Regions from separate parts of the Homo sapiens genome. Here region 2 is linked to region 1. The links come from fine-mapping of genetic effects on gene expression. A gene starts in region 1. The other region holds a variant in brackets. All regions are shown on one strand. Distances are between the middles of the regions.

Region 1 (15,938 bases):
AAGAACTTTGATTTTAACATTTGCATGAAAATACGAGACTATGTTTAGTGTGTATTAAAAACATTCCCAAACAAAAGCCATGAATCCTCTCCTGTGACACAAATGCTCAACAGCTGACTCTATAGCGATGGCCTTTGTTTCAGACATGGTTACTAATACTTTAAGTGGTAGTAAAAATAGATTTTTTTAATTTTTAATTTTTATTTTTTTTTTGAGACAGTCATGCTCTTGTCACCCCAGCTGAAGTGCAATGGCATGATATCGGCTCATTGCAACCTCCACCTCCCGGGTTCAAGTGATTTCTGCCTCAGCCTCCCGAGTAGCTGGTATTACAGGAGCCCGCCAGCATGCCCAGCTAATTTTTGTATTTTCAGTAAAGACGAGGTTTCACCATGTTGGCCAGGCTGGTCTTGAACTCCTGACCTTGTGATCCACCCTCCTCGGCCTCCCAAAGTGCTGGGATTATAGGCGTGAGCCACCGCGCCCGGCCAAAAATAGATGTTATTTAATTCTTTTTTTTTTTTTTTTTTTTTTTTTTTTTTTGAGATGGAGTCTTGCTCTGTCACCAGGCTGGAGTGCAGTGGCGTGATCTCAGCTCACTGCAACCTCTGCCTCCTGGGGTCAAGCGATTCTCCTGCCTCAGCCACCCGAGTAGCTGAGATTACAGGCACGCACCACCATGCCCAGCTAATTTTTGTATTTTTAGTAGAGACAGGGTTTCACCTTGTTGGCTAGGATGGTCTTGATCTCTTGACCTCATGATTCGCCTGCCTCGGCCTCCCAAAGTGCTGGGATTACAGGCGTGAGCCACCGCGCCCGGCCCAATGTTATTTAATTCTTACTTTTATTGGGCCAAGACACAAAAGGGACGCTGAGACTCTGAAGAGAAGGAATCCCTGTGTGTGCTGAAAAACTATTCCCTTTGCTAGGCTACACCAATTTTGACATTTTATTGGGCTAAACAAAAGACAAGAAAAATGCACACAAGAAAAATGCTAGTAAAAACTTCTTTTACTAGCTTGTATAGTTGCATCTGCTTTCTTTTCTTCTTTTTTTTTTTTGAGACAGAGTTTCACTTTTGTTGCCCAGGCTGGAGTATAATGGCACGATCTTGGCTCACCGCAACCTCCGCCTCCCGGGTTCAAGAGATTCTCCTGCCTCAGCCTCCCCAGAAGCTAGGATTACAGGCATGCGCCACCACGCCCGGCTAATTTTGTATTTTTAGTAGAGAACGGGGTTTCTCCATGTTGGTCAGGCTGGTCTCGGATTCCCAACCTCAGATGATCCTCCCGCCTCGGCCTCCCAAAGTGCTGGGATTATAGGCGTGAACCACTGTGCCCGGCCGCATCTGCTTTCTAATGTAAGAGACTGATCTAATAGTCTAGAACCTGACAACTCTTATGGTATCATGGATTTTGTTTATATGCTTTATGAAGGTCACTGCACTGTGGCAACAGTCCAACACTACTGTACCAGCTCCCTCTGACACGTTCCCCTCCAAACTCACGCAGTGGCCAGCTCACTCAGGGCCTCCTGATAGCGTAGGTACTCATTCTGGCCAAAGACCTTAGGAAAGAGAAAGGAAGAGTGAGGATCTCTCAGTCTGAGGGATCTCTTTAGTGCCCCGAAGAAAAAACTGGCTTACCCCTGTCCCATAGCGGGCTGTTTCATAGCCATCCAAAAGGGTATCAATGAGTGCTTTGCGTACACCCTTGAAAGGCGTACTAGTGTTTCGCAGATCCAGCAGGTAGGAGCGGAAATTCTTGCCCATTAAGGAACGGGGATGCCGGCCTTCAGAATGAAATGGGATCTCTGTGGAGAAAACAGCACAATGATATCTCTTCTCATTCTTTAGTCTTTTTTTTTGAGATGGAGTCTCGCTCTGTCACCCGGGCTGGAGTGCAGTGGCAGTGATCTTGGCTCACTGCAACCTCCACCTCCTAGGTTTGAGCAATTCTCTAGTCTCAGCCTCCTGATTAGCTGGGATTACAGATGTGCACCACCATGCCAGGCTTATTTTTGTATTTTTAGTAGAGACAAAAATACAAAAGGGTTTCACCTTGTTGGCTAGGTTGGTCTTGAACTCCTGGCCTCCTGTGATCTGTCTGCCTCGCCCTCCCAAAGCGTTGGGATTACAGGCATGAGCCACTGCGCCTGCCCCATTCTTTAGTCTTTCTAGTTAATTCCCCAAACTTAGAAGTAGGTCTAATGAAGCTGGGCGCAGTGGCTCACGCCTGTAATTACAGCAATTTGGGAGGCCGGGGCAGGCAGATCACCTGAGGTCAGGAGTTTGAGACCAGCCTGGCCAACATGGTGAAAACCTGTCCCTACTAAAAATACAAAAATTAACCAGGCATGGTGGTAGGTACCTGTAATCCCAGCTACTCGGGAGGCTGAGGCAGGAGAACCGCTTGAACCCAGGAGGTGGAGGTTGTGGTGAGCCAAGATCGTGCTACTGCACTCCAGCCTGGGCAACAGAGCAAGACTCCGTCTCAAAAATAAAAAGAAATAGGTCTAATGAAATGAGCAAGTTGAGTTAGAGGGAGATTCTGATTGAGACCAAAGGTATAAAGCTGTGCCTGAGTGGTCATTTGGTGGTAACACCACAGTTGTAAGCTACATCTATGACACATGATAGTGTCATCACACATTTTACCATCCTGCTTACTCATCCATCCTAGGTTTAAGATATAAACTGTTTTCATAGAGATAAAGCATATATGACAAGTGTTGACAGAATGGAAAAAATTCAAGAACAATCTATCTTGGGCTTAGTGAAAAAGCAGGTGCCACCTGTCCTTTGTGGAAAAACAAGCAAATTACTATCATCTACTTCATGAAACTAAAGGTCTCAAGAGAAGAACTTTAAAAAACAAAACACCCAGACTCTTTGGAGAATAACCTGCTTATATCATTTCCTTCAGCAAAATCTCTAATCTAGTACTTTCAAAACTCTAGAATTTCCTACTAGCCAGGGATGTGCAGAAAGGACAAATCCTAACATACAAAGTGGGTTCATTACTCTGTTCCCTAGGTGGGCTTTCAGGATCCTAGAATGGACCCTGTCAGGTAGCCCTTACCAGAGGTACGAATGGCATCCAGAGCTTTCATCCTATACAGATAGTTGTAGCAACCTGTTGAGGAAAAGACTGGTGTTAGGCATAACCCTAAAAATATTCCCCAGGCTGGGCGTGGTGGCTCATGCCTGTAATCCCAACACTTTGGGAGGCTGAGGTGGGTGGATCACCTGAGGTCAGGAGTTTGAGACCAGCCTGACCAACATGGAGAAACCCCGTCTCTAGTAAAAACACAAAATTAGCCAGGCGTGGTGGCGCATGCCTGTAATCCCAGCTACTCAGGAGGCTGAGGTAGAAGAATTGCTTGAACAAGGGGGTGGAGGTTGCAGTGAGCTGAGACTGCACCATTGCACTCCAGCCTGGGCAACAAGAGTGAAACTCCATCTCAAAAAAGAAAAAAAAAATTCCCCAAACTCCAGCAAGCTAATAAATGGGCTCTGCATCTAACATATATCCAATAACAGGAATAACTAAGGCTTTGCCAGCAGCTTTTGACAACTCTGAGAGAAAAGGAATTCTGGACTTGTGGGACTCCTCACTGAAGCATTCCAAGAGCTTGCCACATACTTTGATTTCCCTGGGTTTCCAGTTGTAGTAGTCTAGCATCATCATCTGCAAGGAGCTGGGGCTCATACTTGATATCCTGAACCCTGGAGAGTCGAATATCAATCTCCTCTTTCAAGTCCTGTTCACATAAAAAAAGAATACACAATCATTTACCCTGCACTCTGCTTTCCACCAATGTGAAAATGGGGCAGAGTTAATGAATAACTAAGACAACAGAAATAGAGACCATGCTCATGTAGTTAATAAAATTACCAGATAAGAGGTAAGAATTTAGGAAAGAACGGGATTGGGTTTTCCAATAACCTCTCCAAGCTGCACATCTCTAAGCTAGAACATTTAACTTGTGCCAGAAATCCTTCAAGCTATACAGCACCAACATTATTTCCAATTTTTTTTTTTTTTTTTTGAGACAGAGTCTTGCTCTATCACCCAGGCTGGAGTGCAGTGGCGCAATCTCAGTTCACTGCAACCTCCGCCTCCCAGGTTCAAGCAATTCTCCTGCCTCAGCCTCCAGAGTAGCTGGGATTATAGGCGCGTACGACCATGTCTGGCTAATTTTTCTATTCTTAGTAGAGATGGGGTTTCACCATGTTGGCCAGGCTGGTCTCAAACTCCTGACCTCAAGTGATCCGCCTGCCTTGGCCTCCCAAAGTGCTGGGATTACAGGTGTGAGCTACTGCGCCCAGCCTCTCTTGCCTCAGCCTTCTGAGCAGCTAGGATTACAGGTATGCACCTAGCTAGAGGCTACTTTAAAAAAAAATTAACACATATTTCTTTTAAAATAGCCAAGTCAAATTCATGGTATACAAATTTTAAAGATAGTAAAGGGGCCGGGTGCTGTGGCTCACGCCTGTAATCCCAACACTTTGGGAGGCCGAGGTGGGTGGATCACAAGGTCAGGAGATCGAGACCATCCTGGCTAACACGGTGAAACCCTGTCTCTACTAAAAATACAAAAAATTAGCCGGGCGTTGTGGCGGGGTCCTGTAGTCCCAGCTACTCGGGAGGCCGAGGCAGGAGAATGGCGTGAACCCGGGAGGCAGAGCTTGCAGTGAGCCGAGATTGCGCCACTGCACTCCAGCCTGCGTGACAGAGTGAGACGTCTCCAAAAAAAAAAAAAAAGATACTAAAGGTAGCACCTCTCAGTTACCCAGCAGCAACTACTATTTTCAGTTTCATATTAATCTCTCTTACCTAAGAGGGTTACCAGAGCCCCAGGAAATAAATTTTTTGTTGTAACTTTTTACAAACTCCCATTGTGAAACATAAGATACACAAAATACAGGTAACATAGATGTACATTTTAAATAATTATAAAAAGCATAATAATGAACACCTATAACCAATATCCAGTTTATGCAATGGAACATTACCACTAACTTTCTTTTTTTTTTTTTTTGAGACGGAGTCTCGCTCTGTCGCCCAGGCTGGAGTGCAGTGGCGCAATCTCAGCTCACTGCAAGCTCCGCCTCCCGGGTTCACGCCATTCTCCTGCCTCAGCCTCCCGAGTAGCTGGGACTACAGGCGCCCGCCACCACGCCTGGCTAATTTTTTGTATTTTTAGTAGAGACGGGGTTTCACCTTGTTAGCCAGGTTGGTCTCGATCTGCTGACCTCATGATCCACCCGCCTCGGCCTCCCAAAGTGCTGGGATTACAGGCGTGAGCCACCGCGCCCGGCCCTACCACTAACTTTCAAGTCTTGTGTGCCCATCCCTCATTGAATGCTCCGCACCCCAAACCTTAACTTGTCAATAGTCCTCATACACTTCTTCACTGTTTTATCGTGTCACCCTAAAAAAGATGCTTAGCTTTGCCTGGTTTTCAACTTGATACAAATGGAAAAATACTTTAAGAATCCCTCTGCAACTTGTTTAAAAAAAAAATTTTTTTTTTTTGAGACAGGGTCACACTCTGTCACCCAGGCTGGAGTGCAATGGCACAATCTCAGCTCACTATAACCTCCACCTCCTGAGCTCAGATGATCCTCCTGCCTTAGCCTCCTGAGTAGCTGGGGTTACAGGCACACACCACCATGCATGGCTAATTATTAAACATTTTTTTTTTTTGAGATGGAGTCTTGCTCTGTCACCCAGACTGGAGTACAGTGGCATGATCTTGGCTCATTGCAACCTCTGCCTGCTGGGTTCAAGCAATTCTCCTTGCCCTCCTGCCTCAGCCTCCCAAGTAGCTGGGACTACAGGCGCATGCCACCATGCCCAGCTAATTTTTTGTATTTTTCGTAGAGATGGGGTCTCACCATGCTCGCCAGGCTGGTCTCAAACTCCTGACCTTGTGATCTTCTCATGTGGGCCTCCCAAAGTGCTGGGATTACAGGCGTGAACCACCGCGCCTGGCCCATTTTTAAACTTTTTATAGAGACAGGGTTTCCCCATATTGCCTACGCTGGTCTCGAACTCCTGAGCTGACGTGATCAGCCTGCCTCGGCCTCCCAAAGTGCTAGGATTACAGGTGTAAACCACCTCGCCTGGCCTTAAATTTTTTTTTTTTTTGATACAGAGACTCACTCTGTCACCCAGGCTGGAGTGCAATGGTGTGATCTCTGCTCACTGCAACCTCCGCCGGGGCTCAAGTGATTCTCCTGCCTCAGCCTCCTGAGTAGCTGGGATTACAGGCACACACCGCCACGCCCAGCTAATTTTTTTGCATTTTTAGTACAGTCGGGGTTTCACCGTGTTGGCCAGGCTGGTCTTGAACTCCTGACCTCAGGTGATCCACCTGCCTCAGCCTCCCAAAGTGCTGGGATTACAGGCGTTAGCCACCGCACCCAGCAAAATTTTTCAAATATACTTTATTGAGGTTGAATTTACATACAATAAATGCATTCATTTTATGTATATAAATTGATGAGTTTGACAAATGAACATACCCCCTTCACCACCACGTCAATCAAAGTAAAGAATATTTTCATCACCTGGAAATCTCCCCTCTCCCAGCCCAGGCAACATGATGTACTCTTTTACAGTTCTGCCTGTTCTAGAATTTCATATAAATGGGGTGGAAGCACATGGTACATATTCTCTTGTGAACGGCATTTTGGCTTTCTTCACTCAGCATGGTTTTTTTGTTTTTGGTGAGACAGAGTCTCGCTCTGTCACCCAGGCTGGAGTGCAGTGGTTTGATCTCAGCTTACTACAACCTCTGCCACCTGGGTTCAAGGGATTCTCCTACCTCAGCGTCCCGAGTAGTTAGGATTTTTTTCTTGTATTTTTAGTAGAGATTGGGTTTCACCATGTTGGCTGGTCTGGTCTCGAACTCCTGACCTCAAGTGTTATCTGCCCAACTCGGCCTCCCTAAGTGCTGGGATTACCGGCATGAGCTACCATGCCCGGCCCACTCAGCATGTTTTTGAGATTCATGTTTGCAATTTTTTTCATTCAGAAGTATTTTGAGGACTTGTCTTCATATATTTATCTTCAGTTTTTCATTTTTTACACTATTCCAGAATATGAATATACCACTACCTATTTTTTAGAAACAAGGTCTTGCTCTTGCCCATGCTGGAGTGCATCAGTGCAATCATAGCTCACTGCAGTCTGTAACTCCTGGGCTCACATGATCTTCTGGCCTCAGCCTCCCAAAGTGCTAGGACTACAGGTATGAGCCACTGCACTCAGCCTATATAATAATTGAAAAGTGGACATTTGAATTAAGTTTCTTCTTCAAATATTATGAACAATGCCCCTATAAATAATCTTGCACATGTTTCTTGGTACACATGAGCAAAACTTAATTTCTCTATGGTAGGAGAGAAACTGTTGGACCATGGATTAGGTACATGTGCAATCTTACCAGACAATGACCAGTTATTTTCCAAAGTGGTTTTACTAATTTATACTTTCACTAGCAATGGTTGAGAATTTAGAAAAAATTTTTAAGCAAAAGGAATATTGCTCTGAACTAGACCAAGGGACCCCTGAATAGCCAAAGTATTGATTGGTTCATGATGTGCTAGAAACTAACCCTATGTCTTTCTCATGAGGCAGGCAGGACTGTTAAGGTTTCAAGCCAGGACATCCTCCTAGAGCCTTTTCATGTACTATGTCAGCAAAGAACAAAGAGGGGAAGGTTAATAGCACTTGTTAATGAAAGTACAGTGCTCTAGGAGTTGAGGGAGTCATGAGCTCTAGCTCTACAACTAACCTGTTTTTCATTCAGCAACAAATTACAGAGTACCTGCTATGTGTAGGCCCTGGCACTAACCTGTTTTTCATTCAACAAGAAATTACTGAGTACCTACTATGTGTAGGTCCTGGCTTTATAGTCGTGAACAAAACTGGCATGGTGCCTGCATTCTTGAAGCTTACGGTCTAGCGGAAGAGAGAGGCATGTTTTAAACAAATGGACAAACATAAAAATTATGGTAAATGCTATGAAGGAAAAATCAGGGTACCATGTGAAAATAAAGAGAGGGGGAACCTACTTTAAAATAGGTAATAAGCATTCCTTTTTTGGAAGTAACATTTAAGCTAAGATCAAAAGAATGAATGAGCTAGCCAATTGAAGACCATTCCAGATCACAGGAGCAAAAAGGGTGGAAAATTCAGCCAGTGGAGCTGGGTCCCAGTGATCTGGGGAGAGCCACACAAAAGGGGGTTGGTAAGGGAAGCAGGTGTCTTTTACTTAGAAGCGAAAGACTAAAGAAGCAGAATGAGAGTGGCAGTGGGATAGCAATAATTCTGATTCACAAATGTTGGGTTTGAGATGTCTACTACAAATCTAAGTGGAAATGTCAGGTAATCAGTTGGCAATATATGTAAGGAACTCAGGAAAGAGTTCTAGGATAGAGATAAAATTTCATCTGTAGCTAAAGCCAAGGAAAGGAAGACAGTCACCTAAGGAGAAAGTACAGACAAAGATAAAAGACCACTGGGTTATTCACTTCCTATACGTCTTCTGGTAAACTGCCTCCTTTTCTTGGGCTTCTTGGTAACATGAATGGTGGAATTAGATGATTTATGGAGCTCCTCTTAAGTCTAAAATTATGTAAAGGTAACCCTTCTCATTGCTCTTGGGTTAACCTTAATGATCTCAACCCCATCCTAATCAAACAAAAAACACTGGGTAGTTTAAGATGAGCTGGGAAATATTTTACTACAAACAGTTGGGAACTTCGACCCAAGCCCTTCATTCTGCAGATACAAAAACAGAAGTTCCAGGATGAGCCACATGCTTGCCACAGCACTGAGCAGGTAAGCCAAGTTCCAAAGCGCACAGTGCCTGCTCAACTTAGTAAGTACAAGGACAAGTGCACGCAAAGAAACATGAGAATTAAAGTCATCACTAAAGGCAGAGGAAATCTCATTCTTGACCCTAAAAGATCTGGAGAAGTATGTTTAACTTGTGCCCTAAGGACCTACCTTGGGGGCATTGTGTCCCACAGGGACATGAGGTCCCCTTCGAGATTTCATTGCAAAGCGCATGATTTGCCTCTTCACAAAAATAAATAGCAGTACAAACACCTGTCCAAAAAGATGTAAAAATCCTTTAATAAAAAGTCAGTTTTGTTTTGTTTTTTTTTTAAAAAAGCATGCCTTCATTCCAAATCCCCAGATTCCGGCTCTCAGGAATGTTTCAGGGTAAAACTTGGGGCAAAGCAAGGCCGTTATGATGGGGGTGGATCTAAGAAGCCAGCAGCAGGGAGGCGTGGGGTCTGTGCTCTAGCGTTAAAGGGAGGGTTCTAGACTAACGAGGGCGGGTCGGCCCGACTAAGTGACTTAAACTCCCACCTACTCCTGGAATAAGGAGTCAAAGCCCGGATAGGCGCAGGTGAGTGGGTGGAGAATGCAGACGGGGTACAGCTCAAAAGGAGGGTCTCTACTGGGTAAGATGCGACAGCAGGAATGGGGTGGGGTAATCTCCTCACCAGGCTCCCGTAGGCCATCACCAGCACGACATTCACCCCGGAGAGCCAGTTACTGCCGGACGCCATGGCCTCCCTACCTCGCGCAGAATTGTTCGGGTTTACCCCGCTGTCCTGGCTGGTCAGCCCAGGCTCCGCCGAAGCGACGGCGCCTGGGTCCCCTGGAGCTCCCCGGCCATTTCCTTACGGGGGAAGACCAAGCCAGACCCGGCCTGAAAACATGGCGGACAGGCAGGAGAGCTGGGAAAGGAGAACGACGCCTTCCAGCTTCCCCCTGACACGTGACTCAGGCAGGCAATGGCACCCAGGAGCGTCGAGCGCTCAGACGCGGAACTACGACAGTAAGAGGAAGCGGCGGCCATCCGTGCGTCACGTGGTGGAGGCAGGGCCGCCGTGAAGGAGGCGGGGTGGACTCGCGGAGCCGGAAAGAGGTGTCTCGTGGCGAGGCGGCACGCGCACGCTTGCGTGCGCGCCCCTTTTAGCGTCACGCGCTGAGGGACGCAGGAAGGCAAGTGGGCGGGGGAAGGCGCGAGAGCGAGCGCGAGAGGGAAAAGGAGGGAGGGGGTGGGGAAGAGGGAATCTTATATCACGTGACAGGGGCGGCGCGGCCCGGGGTGTCAGTGTGGAGGAGACTGAGGTAAAGTTGGGAGCGCAGCGGCGTTGGCGGCGGCGGCGGCGGCAGCGGCAGCGCGGCGGGGCCGGGTATTGTCCGCGGCCCCTTTAAATCCGCGATCCCCCTTTTACCCTCCCTCTTTTCTCCCCTGCCCCCGCCGTATCCCCTCCCTCGGTAGGCCCCCCCACACCGTGTGTTCCCCCACTGTACACCCCCCCCCGAGTCATGCGAGCCCTGGCGCCCCCCACCTCGAGTCGGCCCCCGGAGGTTTTGTTTATGGTTGGGTTCGCGGCCTAGTGGGCCGCGCCAGAGCCGGGGCCTCGATTTGGGAGCGTGGCCGGGGCGGGGCTTGGAGCAGCCGTAGGAAGGGGGGGCCATGCGGCTAGAGCCTGAGAGGGGAGAGCGAGAAAGAGCGCGAGCGAGCGAGGCCTGGGCCTTGCCTGAGGTAGGGCTCTCTCTTCACCCCGGCCGGTGCCTGCGGAGGAGAGGGCCTCCTCCCTTTCCACCCACTGCGGGCCTCCTCTGATCCGGATCCGGCCTGGTTTGGGGGTGGCGTGGGGGAGGGAGGGCGATGGGGTGGAGCTCCCCCAAACTCCCCCATGTGGCCCTCAGTTTGGTGTGCGAAGGATTAATTTGTTCCGGCTGGGAGGTAGGGAGGAGATTGGCCCCGTGGGCTCTCGATGTGGCGCTGAGGGGGGTGAGCCTCCCATCCTCCACCCGTGGGCTTGCGTCCCCTCTCCGTTTCCAGGCTCTTTGTCAGCTCCTCTTATTACCCTCCCTTCTTTCTCACCAACCCAGTTCTTGGAATATGTTTTTGCTGCTGTCTTTAGCTTCCTGTTTATACTGTAGTTTGGGTACCCCAAACAATTGTGTTATTTGGGAAGCTGGACATGGAGGCCCCCATAGGGTGTATTTACGCTTAAGGGACGTCACTAGAGCACTGGGGTATTTGTTCACTCTTCTCATAATGGTACAGGAATGCCCAGTTTCTTCAAACCCTTAACCTTGTGGACAGCCCTTAAATTGCTTTGCAAACTGATGTCACAAACTGGAGACTGCTCCTTTTCCACCATTCTTGAAATGTAGCCACCTCTGGTGTAGGATGTTGTGGAAAGAAAAACACCACAGTAACAGGCGTTTTTGTTATTATTGTTAACGTTTTTGCCTTTGACTCTCCCTGATTATTAAATGGAGAAATCCTTTTTTTTTGTCTTCTCTCCCATCCTACCTTCCTCCGCCGCATATCCTGTTTTGGGGATACCTGATGTGACTTGCTGGGAGGTGATGGACATTACTAGTAACCAGCGTTTCTAGAGAATTAAAACATTTTGGCTGTGTATCAGTTGATAAAACTGCTTTGAGATCTGTCTCCATTGTACTTAAAGATTAGACTATCCCAATGATTACAGAGAATTAAAACATTTTGGCTGTGTATCAGTTGATAAAACTGCTTTGAGATCTGACACCATTGTCCTTAAAGATTAGACTATCTCAATGATTGTTTCCTTTGTGAATGGGAAATATTGCTGGCACATAAACTAGTGATGAAAGGCCTAAAAATGTCCTGTTTTGTTTTTCATCTTTAAAGCTCCTCCTTGCTATGTCCTAACTGGGAAGTACTCTTACTAACTAGATATCAAGGTGGTGGGGAAGGGGATGCAGGGGCCATTTCAACAAAGCATCTACAGAAATTAGTTGTTCTGTTAGAGGTAGCAAATTTTACCCAACTCAGTCTAGCTTCAGTTTCTGAATTGTTTCTTAAATTAGATTGTAAGCTCCCTGAGGGCAGCTACTAAGTCATACTGCTTTTGTATTTTCCTGAAGTATTGGACACATAGTAGATTCTCAATAAATATTTGTTATTTAGTTTTTTCAGTGAAATTTCTCTGGCTATTTTTTTAAGTAGCTAGTTTTCAAAAAAGAGTCAAGGGCACTCCTGTGTTGAAACCTCTGTTTACTCTCGCACGATTTCCTTGGTCTCCAATACTTCTCACCCTACTTCCTTTAAATCTTTTTATTTTCTAAGAAAGAGCAAGTAAGTAACAAGATTCTTCATCTCCAGTGTGATAGCTGGGAATGGGTCTGCTTGCTACTAATTCTGTGCCCTCAAGTGATCCATTCCAGATCACTTACTTTTGACCTGTTGCTCAGTGTTGTCACTACTAGGTGGTAAAAATTTTCTTAGTCACATTTCGAAGCACTTGTAAGAGGGAAATGTTACTAGCAAGAGTGATTAGGAGAATTTTTTTCTTTCTTGGTTAATTATATCTTTCAAGATGACTTTTTAATATGTTTACATCTGACTGGTACAGTATATGCAATAGTGTATAGCTAGTCATGCAGTTTATACCTGCAATATAACTTATCCTCACAAATAGATATCACATGTGGAGTAGAAAACAGTCAATATTTGTAAGTTACAGTAGTGGGTTGGAAATGACTATGCCATATTAGAAACTTCATCTTAGAGCCAATTTTAAAACAAAATAGTTTTCCTCTCGTCTTTATATATATACGTATATATGTGTATATGTAGTCTTGTTGATTTGGATTCGGGGTACTTGGTTAAACATTTTTTTTTTTTGTAAAGTTGAAACGACTATAATGCTAACCTGGGAAAATGGGCTACTGTGTAGCAAATAATCCTTTCTAGCTTGAAATACTTATGGGCTTTTGTGTGCCAATATGTGTAGGGGGAAGAGGTAATGGGTTAAAAATTACCTGAGAAGCTACCTTAAAAAAATCTTTCTTGATACAAAGACCTATGCAACCTATTGACGCAACTTGGTGAAGAATTTATGCACAGAAAAAGTCAGCTTTCTCTGTGACATCCAAGAAAGTCAGATGAAATTCACTTCCCTAATAGTTAATCCTTGCATATTTCTTTAGAAGTCCTTCCTCCCACTCAAATCCAGTAATATCTCTGGGCAGTCTAGAATTACGTTGTATAAGGTTTCATTAACAAGAAAAATTAAATATAGAGCAGAAAAGTATAAACTTACCCTCTTTGGAAGGGAATAAATGCAGAGTAACCTATTATTTTGAACACTCTATCATATGATTAATGTTTTCTTTTTTACTAAATGCAGCAGCTGAGATTGTATTATAAAACAAAGTATGAACTAAAGGAACTTGAATTCAGTAGAATCCTTCCTTGTTAGAAGTCTTGTAACAAAAACTATATTCTGGTTTGGGGAAGGCCCTGTGTGTTCTGTGTCTCTTTAAAGACTCAACTAAGTCATCTTGCCAGCATTAAGGTCTCAAGTTTAAAATGATTTCTTAGAAGCACTTTCTTCCAAATAAAACTTTGTGCTAGATGCTTTTGGTTTGAGACAAATTTGAGATTCCCTGTATATTAAGGTGAGTGGTGGAGGGTAATTGCCATTTTGGTTTCTTGAAAATGTGGACTAGGAGACCAAGAGAAGCACCTGTAAAAGCAGTGTGTTGGAATTATTTTCCAGAGAACAGAGATTCTGGACAAAGTCATTGGGGCTAATACGTACCCTGTTGAAGGCTGTGGTTTAAAAAAACAAAAAACCCCCACAAACACAAAACAAACCCATAGCATACTGAGAGAGATGAAACTTGAGGGACAAAGAAGAGTCTAGACTTGAACTTGTCCTTTCCCAAGCAATGGAGGTCACATGCAGCTTACATAAAAAAGGTTGTAAGGCAGGTAAGGCTGTTTTCTTAGGTGATTGAATACAGTATTTAAAATTATTTCTCTGGAGTGTAGACTAATCTCCTTCCTGGAAGGTTTTTGTTTCCAGACTTTACTGATTATCTTTCCTTCTGTCAAAGGTACTTCAGATACTTGCATCTATGTAAAAGGCTTTTGATTATTAGTTAAATGTAAAGTCTGCTTATGGGGGACTAGTAACCAAACTGCTGTAACTTCTTAAAAAAATCCATCACTTACACATGCTTTATACATTTCTTGTTACATAAAAATGGATTAACAGCCATAGCTCCTTAAGGAATTTATCAAGCTAATTATGTTGTAAGAATAAATGAATCTTATTGATTTGTTCCTTTGAAGAAGTGAAAGTGTTTGGTGGTGAAGGTGCTGATGAGAGAGTTAAAAACATATTTTGCCCACATTTAATACCTAATTTTCTTTTAAATCTTTCAGTATTCTACCTTGTAAATACTGTTATTTGTATATACTGTAAATGATGACATCGGTGGGCACTAACCGAGCCCGGGGAAACTGGGAACAACCTCAAAACCAAAACCAGACACAGCACAAGCAGCGGCCACAGGTAAATAATCCAAGGCATACGGATTCATGGATAGCGTTGCCTGCTGATACTGGTTTCCATGCAGTACAGCATCATTCTGTGCTTTGAACTGTTGGTTTAGGTTCCTTATTTTTGTTTTCTAGTCCTTGGCTCTTTTTTTACTTAGGTCCTGATAACTGTTCATGACATGCTGTAAGGCAAGATGCTTACTTTTTTGTTGTTTAATACTGTATTATGAGGCTTAGCACTTTATTATGGGTCCTGTGCTTTTTATCTTTTTTTTTTTTGTTTTGTTTTAAGATAGGAGCTCCCTTTGCCTAGGTCAAAGTGCAGTGGCACAGTCACCATTCATTTGTAGCCTCAACCTCTGGGGCTTAAGTGATCCTCCCGCCTCAGCCTCCTGAGTAGCTGGGACTACCAGTGCACACTACCATGCCAGGCTAATTTTAAAATTCTTGTAGAGATGGTAGTCTTGCTGCATTGCCCAGGCTGGTCTTGAACTCATGGGATTATAGGTGTGAGTCACTGCCCGGCTCTATAACTCTTAAGATAGCATTTCCCTTCTCTTACCTGGGCCATTTTAGCAATACCTTTCTATTTCTTAGACCTTCCACCTTGATATCTCTCTCTTTTGTTTTTGAGACGGAGTCTCGCTCTGTTGCCCAGGCTTGAGTGCAATGGCGCCACTTCGGCTCACTGCAACCTCTGCCTTCCAGGTTCAAGCAATTCTCCTGCCTCAGCTTTCTGAGTAGCTGGGATTACAGGAGTGTGCTACCATGCCCAGCTAATTTTTGTATTTTTAGTAGAGACAGGGTTTCACCGTGTTGGTCAGGCTGGTCTCGAACTCCTGCCCTCAGGTGATCCACCTGCCTCGGCCTCCCAGAGTACTGGGATTATAGGCATGAGCCGCTGTGCCCTGCCCCACCTTGATACCTCTCTAGCAAGCCTTTTCCATTCCAGATTTTATCCTTTGCTCCTCTTTTCCCCAACTTGTCTTTTATTTTCCTCTCTGGTTCCATTGAGACCTTACCTGATTATTCCTTTCCCATGAGGAGCTGGCAACTTCACTATGTTTCTTCAAAATTAAATGAAACACCTTAGAGCATTGCTCAATTTTAAGTTTTAAAGAGTAAATTAACCTCTTGGATATTAACTTTGATGTAGATATATTCTGTTTCTCATACCAGGTTGATGTTAGTTGGTATGTAATGTGAATGAATTACTTATATTTGATTATGGTCAGATAAATCGAATATGTAAGATTAGGACATCCCCCTTACGCATTTTTCTTTCATCTGTGTTTTCAAGTGGATTTCTAGTAGAATTATAATACTTAGTTGGGGCAGTAAAATTCCTAGTATCTGAACATACACTGGATATATAGAAGATGTGTTGAGTCTATTGTCAGACTTGTATTCTAAGCTCTAGGAATAAGAGGATGGCGTTGGTTATTACAGAAATAAGAATAGAGTTTACACATGGCTTTGTGACTTAATATGAATTAAGGGGCAGATGTTTCAGAGCGGTTCTGTGATTCTAAGACGGAAGTCCCTTTAAC
Region 2 (15,938 bases), 62 kb after region 1:
GAAAAACTGGGGGAAGGTGTATGAAGGGAGCTGCGAGCTGAGGTCTGACTTTGATTAAAAAAAAAAAAAAAAAAAAAGAACTGTCAGCCATTGTATTAATGTTTTGATGTGGCAGCCAGTCCTCCGACCCTCTCCCTAGCTTCCCAGACCCCTTGCTCTTGTCCCACTTTGCCACCCATGAGTTGATTTAATGGCTTAAATAGTGCTGAAATATTGGTGGCCAATCTGCCTCCACTCTCAGCCACAGAGATCCCTTTTTTGGAGGGATGACTCGAGATGAAGATGATGATGAGGAAGAAGAAGAAGAAGGGGGCTCATGGGGCCGTGGGAACCCAAGGTTCCATAGTCCTCAGCACCCCCCTGAGGAATTTGGCTTCGGCTTCAGCTTCAGCCCAGGAGGAGGGATACGTTTCCACGATAACTTCGGCTTTGATGACCTAGTACGAGATTTCAATAGCATCTTCAGCGATATGGGGGCCTGGACCTTGCCTTCCCATCCTCCTGGTGTGTGGCTTTCCCTAAGGGGCAACCTGTGGTTTCTGGTGGGTTGGTGGGTGAAATAAAGAGCCTGCAGGGAGTAGCTGGGGGATGGGAAGTGTGAGAAGACTGATGATTTCAGAGAGATTAATAGAGCCCAAGTCCTTTCCCATCCCAGCAAACACCTGCCACCTTTCTGCAGAACTTCCAGGTCCTGAGTCAGAGACACCTGGTGAGAGACTACGGGAGGGACAGACACTTCGGGACTCAATGCTTAAGTATCCAGATAGTCACCAGCCCAGGATCTTTGGGGGGGTCTTGGAGAGTGATGCAAGAAGTGAATCCCCCCAACCAGCACCAGACTGGGGCTCCCAGAGGCCATTTCATAGGGTGAGTATCCCATCTGGTCCTGAAGTGAGAGCTTGTGAGAGACCACTAATAAAGTGCAAAGACTGGCTAGGTGCGGTGGCTCACGCCTGTAATCCCAGCACTTTGGGAGGCCGAGGTGGGCAGATCACCAGAGGTCAGGAGTTGGAGACCAGCCTGGTCAACATGGTGAAACCCCGTGTCTACTAAAAATACAAAAAATTAGCCGGGCATGGTGGCAGGTGCCTGTAATGCCAGCTACTCAGGAGGCTGAGGCAGGAGAATTGGTTGAACCCAGGAGGTGGAGACTCCATCTCAAAAATTGTTTGAGACCCAGCCTTGCTCTGTTGCCCAGGCTGTAGTGCCGTGGCACAATCTCAGCTCACTGCAACCTCCAATTCCCAGGTTCAAGTGATTCTCCTGCCTCAGCCTCCTGAGTAGCTGGGATTACAGTCGCCTGCCAAACGCCCAGCTAATTTTTGTGTTTTTAGTAGAGATGGCGTTTCACCGTGTTGGCCAGGCTGCTTTTGAGCTCCTGACCTCAGGTGATCCACCCACCTCGGCCTCCCAAAGTGCTGGAATTACAAGTGTGAGCCATCATGCCTGGCCAAAGATTGCAATTCTTGTTTGAATCTGATAGCCTTGGGTTGGAATCCTAAGCCCTCCATTTAGTGTTTTCTGTTTTCTATATTAAGCTTGTGGGATTTTCTTTGGGGGGAGATGGGTGTTCTGTTTCTTTTAAAAAACAAAAACAAAAAAACACCACTGGTCTAGATAATTCTTGGATAAGGCAGGATTGTGCACAGAGGATAGGAATATATCAGTTCAGGAAGTCTTTCTGGTAGAAGGATACATAAAACAGCCAGGAAGGAGTGTGTAAATAAGGCTATTCTGAATGGAATTATCTCTTCTGTGGAAGGGGGTTTTGGAGCTCGGGAGTAGTTTGAGGTCTATGACCTTTCAAATTTCAGATTGGAAGGAGTCTTTTCACTTACTATGGTTTCTTCTGCAGTTTGATGATGTATGGCCTATGGACCCCCATCCTAGAACCAGAGAGGACAATGGTAAGTCTGGAGGAAGGGGAAGTTTACCAGCCTTTTGTTATTCTTCTGAAGTTCTGTGTGTTCTCCCTCCCTGAAGTTTCTTCCTGTACACTTGTCTCCTTTTTTCCTTTGGACTCTTTCTCTCCTGCTTCTTCATCTCTCTGCTCTTCCAGATCTTGATTCCCAGGTTTCCCAGGAGGGTCTTGGCCCGGTTCTACAGCCCCAGCCCAAATCCTATTTCAAGAGCATCTCTGTGACCAAGATCACTAAACCAGATGGGGTGAGTTGAAAGAAAGAGGTAAAGGAAAGTATGGCCAGGGAACGAATGCCCTGAAACAGGGATCTGTGTAAAGAAACTGCTGAGCATAACCTTTAGTAACATTCGGAATATGGTGGGGACTTCTCTTTGTAGATAGTGGAGGAGCGCCGGACTGTGGTGGACAGTGAGGGCCGGACAGAGACTACAGTAACCCGACACGAAGCAGATAGCAGTCCTAGGGGTGGTAAGTTAAAAGACAAAGGGGTTCATCTCAAGATTCCTTGGGGAAGGGAAATCTTACTCTTCTACCCTTGTCCTTTGCTTCTGCCTAGTCTCTTTCATTTAGCCTATTTACGTGTATGACTTTCTTCCTTAGATCCAGAATCACCAAGACCTCCAGCCCTGGATGATGCCTTTTCCATCCTGGACTTATTCCTGGGACGTTGGTTCCGGTCCCGGTAGCCTTGTTAACCCTCAGAGGCCTTCAAGTCCTTTCCACCTCTCACCCATTGCCCACCATTAATAAGCTTAGCTTCTCTTGCCACCTCAGGGGCTTGGATATGTGGAATAGTGAACTGGGGCCATGTCAGTTTGTCACTCACCCAAACTGACCAATAAAACCTTTATTTATGCTAATTTTTTGTCTTGGTTTTGTCAAGGCTATTTCAGTTTCTAGAACCATCCAACACTTCCGAAATTATCTTGGTCCTCTGCCTTCTCCTTATTCCTTAATTTTTTATTCTGCATCTAAAACCTGATTTCATAAGTAAGGGTCAGGCACAAGTAGAAAATGATTTTTCTTTCTCAAGCAAGAAAAAAAAAAAAAGAGGCCGGGCTCGTTGGCTCATGCCTGTAATCCCAGCACTTTGGGAGGCTGAGACAGGCAGATAACCTGAGGTCAGGAGTTCAAGACCAGCCTGGCCAATGTGGTGAAACTCTGTCTCTACTAAAAATACAAAAATTAGCTGGGCATGGTGGCGGGTGCCTGTAATCCCAGGCTAGGGCAGGAGAATCGCTTGAACCTGGTAGGAGGAGGTTGCAATGAGCCGAGATCACGCCATTGCACTCCAGCGTGGGCGACAAGAGTGAAACTCCATCTCAAAAAAAAAAAAAAAAAAAAAAAAGAAAAGAAAAGAAAAAGAAAAATGATTTTTCTTACTGAGGAGATGACTAGAAATAATTTCAGGAAAATTTCTAGAGAGGGATACATCAGATTCCCAAAAAAAGGGTGTGGGTGTGGAAGTAGGGGTTAACTGCTTCCCTGAGTGTGGGATCACTGACTGGAGAGTTCATGAAGTAACTGGGGAAGCACATGGGTAAATTTCCCTTACTTTACTGGCCTTAAAAAGTTGTTATGTGGCTGGGTGTGGTGGCTCACGCCTGTAATCCCAGCACTTTGGGAGGCCGAGGCAGATGGATCACATGAAGTCAGGAGTTCGAGATTAGCCTGACCAATACGGTGAAACCCTGTCTCTACTAAAAATACAAAAATTAGCCAGATGTGGTGGCACATGTTTGTAATCCCAGCTACTTGGGAGGCTGAGGTAGGAGAATTGCTGGAACTCAGGAGGTGGAGGTTGCAGTGAGCCATGATCATGCCATTGCACTCCAGCTTGAGCAACAAGAACGAAATTCCATCTCAAAAAATTGTTATGTATGTTAGAGAAAATACACCTGGCACAAACGTTACTAGGTCCTTTTTTCTTTTTGAGGCAGGGTCTCATTCTGTCACACAGGCTGGAGTGTAGGGGGCGATGTTGGCCCACTGTAGCCTCGACCTGGGCTCAGTCCTCCCACCTCAGCCTCCTGAGTAGCTGGGACTACAGGCGTACACCACCATGCCTAGCTAATTTTTTTTCTCGTTTTTTTTCCTTTTATTATTATTATTATTTTGTATTTTTTGTAGAGACGGAGTTTTGCCATGTTGCCCAGGCTTCCTTTTCTCATTATAAAAGTTTTTAACCAGGTGTGTTAGACTGTACCTATCATCCTAGCTACTTGGGAGGCTGAGATAGGAGGATTACTTGAGCCCAGGAGGCGGAGGCAACATAGCAAGATCCTATTTCTAAAATATATATATATATATATATATATTTTTTTTTTTTTTTTTTTTTTTGAGATGGACTCTCGCTTTGTCACCCAGGCTGGAGTGCAGTGGCGCAATCTCGGCTCACTGCAACCTCTGCCTCCCGCGTTCAAGTGATTCTCCTGCCTCAGCCTCCCGAGTAGCTGGGACTACAGGCACGTGCTACCACGCCCAGCTAATTTTTGTATTTTTAGTAGAGACAGGGTTTCACCATGTTGGCCAAGCTGGTCTCGATCTCTTGACCTTGTGATCCGCCTGCCTCAGCCTCCCAAAGTGCTGGGATTACAGGCGTAAGCCACCACGCCCCGCAAAATATTTTTTAAAAATTGGCTGAGCAGGCTGGGCATCGTTGCTCACACCTATAATCCCAGCACTTTGGGAGGCTGAGGCGGGTGGATCACTTGAGGTCAGGAGTTCAAGCAGGCTGGGCACTGTGGTTCACACTTGTAATCCCAACACTTTGGGAGGCCAAGGTGGGCAGATCACTTGACGTCAGGAGTTCGAGACCAGCCTGGCCAACATGGTGAAACCCCAACTCTACTAAAAATACAAAAATCAGCTGGGTGTGGTAGTGCACACTTGTAATCCCAGCTACTTAGGAGGCTGAGGCGGGAGGATCATTTGAACCCAGGGGGTGGAAGTTGCAGTGAGCTGAGATTGTGCTGCTGCACTCCAGCCTGGTTGACAGAGCGAGACTCCATCTCAAAAAACATAAATAAATAAATTAGCTGAGCATGGTGGCCCACATCTGTAGTCTCAGCTATTCAGGAGGCTAAAACAGGAGGATCCCTGGAGGCTGGAGTTCGAGGCTGCGGTGATCTATGATCACACCACTGCATTCCAGCCTGGGCGACAGAGTGAGACCCAATCACAACAACAAAAGCTTTTAGTACTGTGGTTAAGAGGGGCAAATCTGGGGCCAGTCACAGTGGCTCACACCTGTAATCTCAGCACTTTGGGAAGCTGAGCGGAGAGGATCAATTGAGACCAGCCTGGGCAACATAGGGAAACCCTGTCTCTACAAAAAAATTTAAAAATTAGCTGGGCATGGTGGTGCATGCCTGTAGTCCCAGCTACTCAGGGGTCTGAGGTGGGACGTTGTCGAGCCCATGAGGTCAAGGATGCAGTGAGCCATGACCATGCTGCTGCACTCCAGCCTGGGCAACAAAGTGAGACTGTCTCAAAAAAAAAGGCCGAGAGTGGTGGCTCGCGCCTGTAATCCCAGTACTTTGGGAGGCCAAGATGGGCGGATAACTTGCTGTCTCTGCTAAAAATACAAAAATTAGCCAGGCAAGGTAGTACGGGCCTGTAATCTCAGCTACTCGGAAGGCTGAGGCATGAGAATCACTTGAACCCGGGAGGCAGAGGTTGCAGTGAGCCGAGATTGCACCATACACTCCAGCCTGGGTAACAGAGCAAGACTCCGTCTCAAAATATAAAATAAAAAATAAATATTTAAAAAAAAAAAGAGTGGTGGCCGGGCATGGTGGCTCACGCCTGTAATCCCAGCACTTTGGGAGGCTGAGGCGGGTGGATAGCCTGAGGTGAGGAGTTCGAGGCCAGCCTGGCCAATATAGTGAAATCCCGTCTCTACTAAAAATACAAAAAATTAGCTGGGTGTGGGGGTGGGCGCCTGTAATCCCAGCTACTAGGGAGGCTAAGGCAGGAGACCCTCTTGAACCCAGGAGGTGGAGGTTGCAGTGAGCAGAGATTGTGCCACTGCACTTCAGCCTGGGCGACAAAAGTGAAATTCCATCTCAAAAAAAAAAAAAGAGAGTGGTAAATCTGACATATTTATTTACTTCTGTTTCCTCTGGAAATCCCACTAAATTATGACAAAGGGATTTCTCTAAAGAGGTATATCACAAGAACAAAGGACAGGAGATGATAGTAATGAAGCTCTGTCTTTTAATTCTCTATTGTATCTTTTGGTGAACAGAAGTTGATTTATTGTAGCCTAATTTATCTTTATAAGTTTGTGTTTTACGTTTAGGTTTTTAGACCTACCTGGAATTTTTGTTTGTATATGGTATTAATTTGGGTCCAATTTGGAAAAAATATGCACAAATATATAAATATTTCTTTTTAAAAAACAAGGTTGGGCACTGTGTCTCCCGCTGGTAATTCCAGCACTTTGGGAGGGATAGGTGGGAGGACTGCTTGAGCACAGGAGTTTAAGACCAGCCTGGGCAACAAAGTGAGACCCCCCCACCATCTGTACAAAATAAAAATTAAAAAATTAGTGGGGCATGGTGGCATGTGCCTGTAATCCCAGCCACTGGGGAGGCTAGGGCAGGAGAATCACTTGAGCCCAGGAGTTTGAGGCTGCAGTGAGCCATGATCACGCCACTGCACTCCAGGGTGTCAGAGCAAGACCCTATCTCAAAAAATAAATAGGCTGGGTGCGGTGGCTCATGCCTGTAATCCCAGCACTTTCGGAGGCCAAGGCGGGGGGATCACGAGGTCAGGAGTTCAAGACCAGCCTGACCAACATGGCGAAACCTCGTCTCTACTAAAAATACAAAAATTAGCCAGGTGTGGTGGCGCATACCTGTAATCCCAGCTACTCAGGAGGCTGAGGCAGGAGAATCGCTTGAACCCAGGAGGCAGAGGTTGCAGTAAGCAGAGATCATGCCACTGCACTCCAGCCTGGGCGAGAGGTGAGACTCTGCCTCAAAAATAAATAAATAAATAAATAAGTAAATAAATAAATAGGCCGGGTACGGTGGGTCACGCCTGTAATCTCAGCACTTTGGGAGGCTGAGGCAGGTGGATTACCTGAGGTCAGGAGTTCAAAACCAGCCTGGCTAGCACAGTGAAACCCCATCTCTACTAAAAATACAAAATTAGCCGGGCATGGTGGTGGGCACCTGTAATCCCAGGTAAAAATAAATAAATAACTAAAACAGCCCCAAAACAATAGCAACAACAACACACACACATGCACACACACAACTGTGCTGGGTCTTTCTATTCTATTAGTCTATTTGTCTATATTTGTGCCCATATCATACCTTAAAATACTATAGTTTTATTTAGTAAAACCAGTCTTCCTACCTTTTTATTATTTTTTAACCCTTCTATTGTATAAAAATACAATTGTTTTTTCTAATCAGCTTTTTAGAGTACCATCACAAATATAAATGGAGCTAAAAATCACCAGATATGTGAAGAAAGCATTTAACATGAGTGGTAGAGACAAACGAAACAACTTGAAAGAAACAGAGACTATGCAGAGAGATTAAAAACTTTAAATGTACACAATTTTTTTTTTAGATGGAGTCTTGCTCTGTTTCCCAGGCTGGAGGGCAGTGGTACAATCTCATCTCACTGCAACCTCCACCTGTAAGTGGAGGCTCAGGCGATTCTCCTGCCTGAGCCTCCCGAGTAGCTGGGACTACAGGCTCAAGCCACCACACCCGGCAATTTGTTTTTTTTTTTTTTTGAGACAGTCTCACTCTGTTGCCCAAGCTGGAGTGTAATGGCACGATCTTGGCTCACTGCAACCTTCGCCTCCCGAGTTCAAGTCATTCTCCTGCCTCAGCTTCTCAAGTAGCTGGGATTACAGGTGCATACCACCACGCCTGGCTAATTTTTGTATTTTTAGTAGAGACGGGGTTTCACCATGTTGGCCAGGCTCTTGAATTCCTGACCTCAGATGCCCGCCTCGGCCTCCCAAAATGTTGGAATAACAGGCATGTGCTACTGCGCCCAGCCTACATTTCTGAGTTTTTAATGGAGACAGGCTTTCACCATGTTGGCCAGGCTGGTCTTGAACTCCTGACCTCAAGTAATCCACCCACCTTGGCCTCCCAAAGTGCTGGGATTACAGGCATGAGCCACTGCACCTAGCCTATTG[A/C]TTCATATTTCTAAGCACTATAAAGATGTATGTACTTGGCCGGGTGCAGTGGCTCATGCCTGTAATCCCAACAGTTTGGAAGGCTGAAGGGAGAGAATGGCTTTAGCCCAGGAGTTGGAGACAGTCTGGGCAACATAGTGAGACCCGTCTCTACAAAAAATTAAAGATTAGCCAGGCAGGGTGGTGCACACTGTAGTCCCTGCTACTGGGAAGGCTGAGGTAGGAGGATCGCTTGAGTCCAGGAGTTCAAAACTGCAATGAGCTATGATTGTGCCACTGCACTCCAGCCTGGGTGACAGAGTGAGACTCTGTCTCTAAAAACAGAAATAAAACCCACAAATGTGATAGAGTTCAACTCTCCAAAGTTGAACTCTCCACAAAGTAAACAAAATAACTGATCAAAAAATAAGAGAAAAAAGGCTGGACGCAGTGACTCACGCCTATAATCCCAGCACTTTGGGAGGCCGCGGCGGGCGGATCATGAGATCAGGAGATCGAGACCATCCTGTATAACACGGCGAAACCCCATCTCTACTAAATATACAAAAAATTAGCTGGGCGTGGGGGCGAGTGCCTGTAGTCCCAGCTACTTGGGAGGCTGAAGCAGGAGAATGGCGTGAACCCAGGAGGTGGAGTTTGCAGTGAACCGAGATCACGCCACTGCACTCCAGCCTGGGAGAGAGAGTGAGACTCCATCTCAAAAAAAAAAAAAAAGAAAAAAGAAAAGAAAAGAAAGAAAAACATAAAACTAGAACGGCATAAATTATCAATGAAATAAGTCATGAAAATATTCCAGAATTGAAGAATATTACTTAATTTTTTTTGAGACAGAATCTCACTCTGTCACCCAGATTGGAGTGCAGTGGCACAATCATAGCTCATTGCAGCCTCGAATTCCTGGGCTCAAGCAATCCTCCTGCCTCAGCCTGAGTGGCTGGGACTATAGGTGTGCACCACCACACCCGACTAATTTTTGTTTTTTGTTTTTTGTTTTGTTTTGTTTTGTTTTGTTTTTGGTAGAGACGGTGGTCTTGCCATGTTGCCCTGGCTGGTCTCCAACTCCTGGGCTGAAGTTATCCTCCCACCTCGACCTCTCAAAGTGCTGGAATTACAGGAAAGAGCCACTGTGCCCGGCCTGAAGGATATTACTTTCTAACCTGAAAGGACTTGCCACATGCCAGACACCAAGGGTGAAAATAAACCCACTCTAAGGCATGCCATATGAAATTTTAGAACACTGGAGACAACAGAGTTTAAAAGATTCTAGAGGGAGAGAGAAAGAAAAATGGGGCACATGTTCTCAGGATCTCCTGAGGGCTGTGTCAGTGGATAACAAAATAACCTAAAGGATCAAGAATCATAATATTCTCAAACTTTATCAGCAACACAAAGTATAAGACAATGGAGATCCAGCAATCCAGCTACTAGGTATATATTCAAGGCAACTGAAATCAGTATGTTGAAGAGATACCTGCACTGCCATGTTCACTGCAGTACTGTTCACAATAGCTGAGAGTAGGAATCAACCCAAGTCTCCTGCAGTGGGTTAATGGATAAAGAAAATGTGGCATATATACACAATGCAGTACTATTCAGCCTTACAAAGGAATGAAGCCTGGCTCGGTAGCATGCTCATGTTGTCTCAGCTACTCAGGAGGCTGAGGCAGGAAGATTGCTTGAGCCAGGGAGTTCAAGGTCAGCCTGGGCAACATAGCGAGACGTCATCTCTAAAATAAAGACATTCTTTACAGAAAAAATAGAAAACAAAGAATGAGATCCTGTCATTTACAACATCGATGAACCTAGAGCACATTATGTTAAGTGAAGTAAGCCAGGCACAGAAAGACAAATACCACATGATCCCACTTATATATGGAATCTTAAAAAAACCTCATGCAGGTAGAGAGTAGAATGGTGGCTACCAGAGACTAGGGGGTGGTGAATGCTGGGGAGACATTGGTCAATGGATACCAAATTTCAGTTGGACAGGAGGAATAAGTTCAAGAGATCTATTGTACATCATGGTGACTACAGTTAATAACAATGTAGTTGGCTGGGCACAGTGGCTCATGCCTGTAATTCCAACACTTTGGGAGGCCAAGGCAGGAGGATCACCTGAGGTCAGGAGTTTGAAACCAGCCTGGCCAACAAGGTGAAACCCCATCTCTACAAAAAAATACAAAAATTAGCCAGGCGTGGTGGCACGTGCCTGTAATCCCAGCTACTCGGGAGGTTGAGGCAGGAGAATCACTTGAACCCGGGAGTCGGAGGTTGCAGTGAGCCGAGATTGCAACACTGCACTCCAGCCTGGGTGACAGAGCGAGACTCCGTCTCAAAAAAAAAATAAAAATAAAAATAAATAAATAAATAAATAAATAAATAAATAAATAAAATAAAAATAAAAAGTACTTGTCTACATTGGGAAGATGGAGGAACCAATGCATATATTTGTTGTGGGCAGTGCAATATGTAACTAAATCCTTATCTTCCATACTGTAAACACAATAATTAGTTTCTTTTTTTCTTTTTTTTTTTGAGATGCAGTCTCATGCTCTGTCCCCCAGGCTGGAGTGCAGTGGCACAATCTTGGCTCACTGCAAGCTCTGCCTCCCAGGTTCATGCCATTCTCCTGCCTCAGCCTCCCGGGTAGCTGGGACTACAGGCACCCGCCACCACGCCTGGCTAATTTTTTGTATTTTTAGTAGAGACAGGGTTTCACCATGTTAGCCAGGATGGTCTCGATCTCCTGACCTCGTGATCCGCCCGCCTCGGCCTCCCAAAGTGCTGGGATTACAGGCGTGAGCCACTGCGCCCGGCCAATAGTTAGTTTCTAAAACAAAAAGTAAGTATCACTGTAAGCATATTTAGGTATATAATGGTAAATATTAAAGAAAATATTTTAAAAGTTGGTAATGGTTGGCCAGGGCTGGTGGCTCACGCCTGTAATCCCAGCACTTTGGGAGGCCAAGGCAGATGGATCACCTGAGGCCAGGAGTTCAAGACCAGTCTGGCCAACATGAAGAAACCCCATCTCTACTAAAAATACAAAAATTAGCTGGGTGTGGTGGTGCACACCTGGAGTCCCAGTTATTCAGGAGGCTGAGGCACGAGAATCAATTGAACCCAGGAAATGGAGGTTGCAGTGAGCCGAGATCACACCACTGCACTTCAGCCCAGGCCACCGAAGGAGACTCTGTCTCAAAAAAAAAAAAAAAAAGTTGGTAATAGTTGCCTCTGGGGATTGGAAAAGGATGGACCATATTGACACTGAAGTCAGGAAGCTGCTATTTTTCATGTGTTGTAGAATTATTTGACTTTGTCCTGGTACAGTGGCTCATGATTATAATCCCAGCCCTTTTAGAGCCCTGTCTAAACAAAAAATATTAGCTGGGCGTGGTGGCATATGCCTGTAGTTCCAGCTACTGGGGAGGCTGAAGCAAGAGGATCACTTGATCCCAGGAGACTGAGGCTGCAGTGAGCTATTACTAGACCACTGTACTGCAGCCTGGATGACAGAGCAAGATCCTATCCCCCCCTCCAAAAAAAAAGAAAAAAAGAAAGAAATAAAAAAACAGAAAAGAAAAATGTTTAATTATTTCACTCTTGATATATCCATGTAGCCGGGCACAGTGGCTTACACCTGTAATCCCAGCACTTTGGGAGGCCAAGGCAGGTGGATCACCTGAGGTTAGGAGTTTGAGACCAGCTTGGCCAACATGGCGAAACCCTGTCTCTACTAAAAATACAAAAAATTAGCCAGGCACAGTGGCGCAAGCCTGTAGTCCCAGCTACTTGGGAGGCTGAGGCTGGGGAACTGTTGAACCCGGGAGGCGGAGGTTGCAGTGAGCAGAGATTGTGCCATTGTACTACAGCCTGGGTGAGAGAGCGAGACTCCATCTCAAAAAAAAAAAAATCCATATATTAGCAATAAATTAAAAATTTAAATTTATAAATGTAATGCAAAAAAAGTGAGTTAATGTAAAGAAAATACATTTATAGCAGTCTTGACATTTGACAGGGTTGATACAACAGACCAGTGGAGGAAGAATGGATTGTTTTTTTTCTTTTCGAGACAGAATCTTGCTCTGTCGCCCAGGCCGGAGTGCAGTGGTGCAATCTTGGCTCACTGCAACCTCTGCCTCCCGAATTCAAGCAATTCTCCTGCCTCAGCCTCTTGAGAAGCTGGGATTGCAGGTGTGCGCCACCATGCCCGGCTAATATATATATATATATATTTTGTATTTTCAGTAGAGATGAAGTTTCACCGTGTTGGCCAGGCTGGTCTCAAACTCCTTCCCTTGTGATCCACCCATCTTGGCCTCCCAAAGTGCTGGGATTACAGGCGTGAGCCACCATGCCCAGCCTGGATGGATTGTTTTAAGAGATGATTTTGGAAAAACTGGAAGAAAAGAAAATTACATGCATGCCAGTTCAGATGGATTGGAAATACAAAGCTTATAGGTGAAACTGTTAATGGTGGAGAGTGTCCAGGTTCTTGGCGTCTTGAAAGAAGAATTGGACTAAATGCACAAACAAAGCAAGGAAGGAATGAAGGGGTTTATTGAAAATGAAAGTACACTCCACAGTGTGGGAGCAGGCCCGAGCATAGGGGCTCAAAGGCCCTGTTACAAAATATTTGGGAGTCTAAATACCACTCTAGAGGTTTCCATTGGTTATGTGGTGTACACCCTATGTAAATGGAGAGGATGAAGTAAAGTTACAAAGTCATTTACTTGGCCTAGGCCCTATGGAGAGGTTATTTCCTGTCATAGCTGAAGTGTGAATTGGCCTTATGTTCCCTGCCTCCAGACCCTATTTTCCTGCCTCAAATCTATAGTGGTAATAGAAGAACCTGTGTTCTTTCTGACTTTGAGGCAAAGGAGGGCTTCTTAAATAAGACCCCAAAATACAAACCATAAGTCAGACAATGGGTTAATTTTTTATATCAAAATTAAGGGGCCAGGCATGGTGGCTCACACCTGTAATCCCAGCCCTTTGGGAGGCCTAGGCGGGTAGATGACCTGAGGTCAGGAGTTCGAGACCAGCCTGACCAACATGGTGAAACCCCGTCTCTACTAAAAATACAAAAATTAGCCAGGCATGGTGGCGCATGCCTGTAATCCCAGCTACTCGGGAGGCTGAGGCAAGAGAATCGCTTGAACCTGGGAGGTGGAGGTTGTGGTGAACCGAGATTGCACCTTTGCACTCTAGCCTGGAAAACAAGAGCGGAACTCTGATTCAAAAAAAAAAAAAAAAAAATTAAGGGCTGAATGTGGTGGCTCACGCCTGTAATCCCAGCATTTTGGGAGGCTGAAGTGGGCAGACTGCTTAAGCTCAGGAGTTTGAGACCAGCCTGGGCAACATGGTGAAACCCCATCTCTACCAAAAATACAAAAAATTAGCTGGGCATGGTGGCACGTGCCTGTGGTCCCAGCTACTTCGGAGGCTGAGGCGGGAGGGTCACTTGAGCCAGGGAGGTGGAGGTTGCAGTGAGCCAAGAACGTACCATTGCACTCCAGCCTGGGTGACGAAACCCTGTATATATATATATAATTAAATAATCCTGCTCAATAATGGAAACTATAATCAAAGGTAATAGTGAATAGACCTAGGGCGGAGTTTGCAAAATTTAAAGCAAGCAATGGGTTAATATCTAGACCACACAACCCACTCCTCAAATCAATAAGGCACTAAACTAAAAGCAAGAAAATAGGGCTCCCTCTCCCTCTCCCTCTCCCCACGGTCTCCCTCTCCCTCTCTTTCCACGGTCTCCCTCTGATGTCGAGCCAAAGCTGGACGGTACTGCTGCCATCTCGGCTCACTGCAACCTCCCTTCCTGATTCTCCTGCCTCAGCCTGCCGAATGCCTGTGATTGCAGGCGCACGCCGCCATGCCTGACTGGTTTTCGTATTTTTTTGGTGGAGATGGGGTTTCGCTGTGTTGGCTAGGCTGGTCTCCAGCTCCTAACCGCGAGTGATCCACCAGCCTCGGCCTCCCGAGGTGCCGGGATTGCAGACGGAGTCTCCTTCACTCAGTGCTCAATGGTGCCCAGGCTGGAGTGCAGTGGAGTGATCTCGGCTCGCTACAACCTCCACCTCCCAGCAGCCTGCCTTGGCCTCCCAAAGTGCCGAGATTGCAGCCTCTGCCCGGCCGCCACCCCGTCTGGGAAGTGAGGAGCGTCTCTGCCCGGCCGCCCATCGTCTGGGATGTGAGGAGCCCCTCTGCCTGGCTGCCTAGTCTGGAAAGTGAGGAGGGTCTCTGCCCGGCCGCCATCCCATCTAGGAAGTGAGGAGCGCCTCTTCCCGGCCGCCATCCCATCTGGGAAGTGAGGAGCGTCTCTGCCCGGCCACCCATCGTCTGAGATGTGGGGAGCACCTCTGCCCTGCCGCCCCGTCCGGGATGTGAGGAGCGTCTCTGCCCGGCCGCCCCGTCTGAGAAGTGAGGAGACCCTCTGCCTGGCAACCGCCCCGTCTGAGAAGTGAGGAGCCCCTCCGCCCGGCAGCCGCCCGGTCTGAGAAGTGAGGAGCCCCTCCGCCCAGCAGCCACCCCGTCTGGGAAGTGAGGAGCGTCTCTGCCCGGCAGCCGCCCCGTCCGGGCGGGAGGTGGGGGGTCAGCCCCCCGCCCGGCCAGCCGCCCCGTCCGGGAGGTGAGGGGCGCCTCTGCCCCGCCGCCCCTACTGGGAAGTAAGGAGCCCCTCTGCCCGGCCACCACCCCGTCTGGGAGGTGTACCCAACAGCTCATTGAGAACGGGCCATGATGATAATGGCGGTTTTGTGGAATAGAAAGGGGGGAAAGGTGGGGAAAAGATTGAGAAATCGGATGGTTGCCGTGTCTGTGTAGAAAGAGGTAGACATGGGAGACTTTTCATTTTGTTCTGTACTAAGAAAAATTCTTCTGCCTTGGGATCCTGTAGATCTGTGACCTTACCCCCAACCCTGTGCTCTCTGAAACAGGTGCTGTATCCACTCAGGGTTGAATGGATTAAGGGCGGTGCAAGATGTGCTTTGTTAAACAGATGCTTGAAGGCAGCATGCTCTTTAAGAGTCATCACCACTCCCCAATCTCAAGTACCCAGGGACACAAACACTGCGGAAGGCCGCAGGGTCCTCTGCCTAGGAAAACCAGAGACCTTTGTTCACTTGTTTATCTGCTGACCTTCCCTCCACTATTGTCCTGTGACCCTGCCAAATCCCCCTCTGCGAGAAACACCCAAGAATGATCAATAAAAAAAAAAGAAAAAGAAAAAAAGAAAATAGGTAAAAAACATGATTAAGCACTCACTGATGAGTAGCTTCTGACTTTCATTCTGAGTTTGCTGAACCCAGATGCCATTCCTGGGAAGGAAAAAAATAAACATGGTAAGCAATCACAGAAGGGGAAATCTGAATACCAACAGTATAAATTAATCCTCTACCTTGAACGCAATCAGAAAAATGCACATTAAAATAATAATGAGATACCACTTTACACCCATCAGGTAGGCAAAAATTAGTCCGGTAATACCAAATATTAGCAAGATCCAAGATGAGAGGAAACAAATCCCTGCTGTACTCCTGGAGTGTGAGACATGCAGCCGTTTCCATTTTTGTAGTAAAGAATCTGGCAGAGCTTTGTGAAATTAAATATGCACATGCTCTATGACCCAGCAATTCTACTCTGTCGACCAAAAGAGTGGAACTCTGTAAAATATTTGAAGAGATTTATTCTGACTCAAAGATGACTGACCATGGCCTGTGACACAACCCTCAGGAAGTCCTGAGAACCTGTGCACAAAGTGGTTGGAGTGCAGCTTGGTTTTATACACTTTAGAGAAGAATGACACATCAATTAAATACATTTAAGACATAC

The links.
Region 2: its variant is fine-mapped to the expression of UBAP2L in blood mononuclear cells (TOPMed, PIP 0.95).

The regions. Positions count from the first base shown.
Region 1 is chr1:154,210,813-154,226,750 of GRCh38, forward strand. UBAP2L (ubiquitin associated protein 2 like) reads left to right here and starts at 10,143. Exons shown (of 27, transcript NM_014847.4): 1 at 10,143-10,163; 2 at 14,272-14,401. The coding sequence starts at 14,312. LTAP1 (lipid transport auxiliary protein 1) reads right to left here and starts at 9,778. Exons shown (of 7, transcript NM_001098616.3): 1 at 9,530-9,778; 2 at 9,024-9,125; 3 at 3,645-3,762; 4 at 3,081-3,134; 5 at 1,646-1,812; 6 at 1,508-1,566. The coding sequence starts at 9,595. RefSeq lists enhancers at 9,151-9,898, 9,477-9,916, 9,899-10,646 and silencers at 9,237-9,306, 10,167-10,316.
Region 2 is chr1:154,273,095-154,289,032 of GRCh38, forward strand. It overlaps HAX1 (HCLS1 associated protein X-1), which reads left to right. Exons shown (of 7, transcript NM_006118.4): 2 at 242-504; 3 at 680-867; 4 at 1,856-1,907; 5 at 2,060-2,166; 6 at 2,299-2,389; 7 at 2,522-2,781. The coding sequence ends at 2,607. It overlaps LOC124904806 (small nucleolar RNA SNORD59), which reads left to right and starts at 15,366; the gene lies at 15,366-15,433. The variant A/C (reference allele first, on the strand shown) is at 8,091.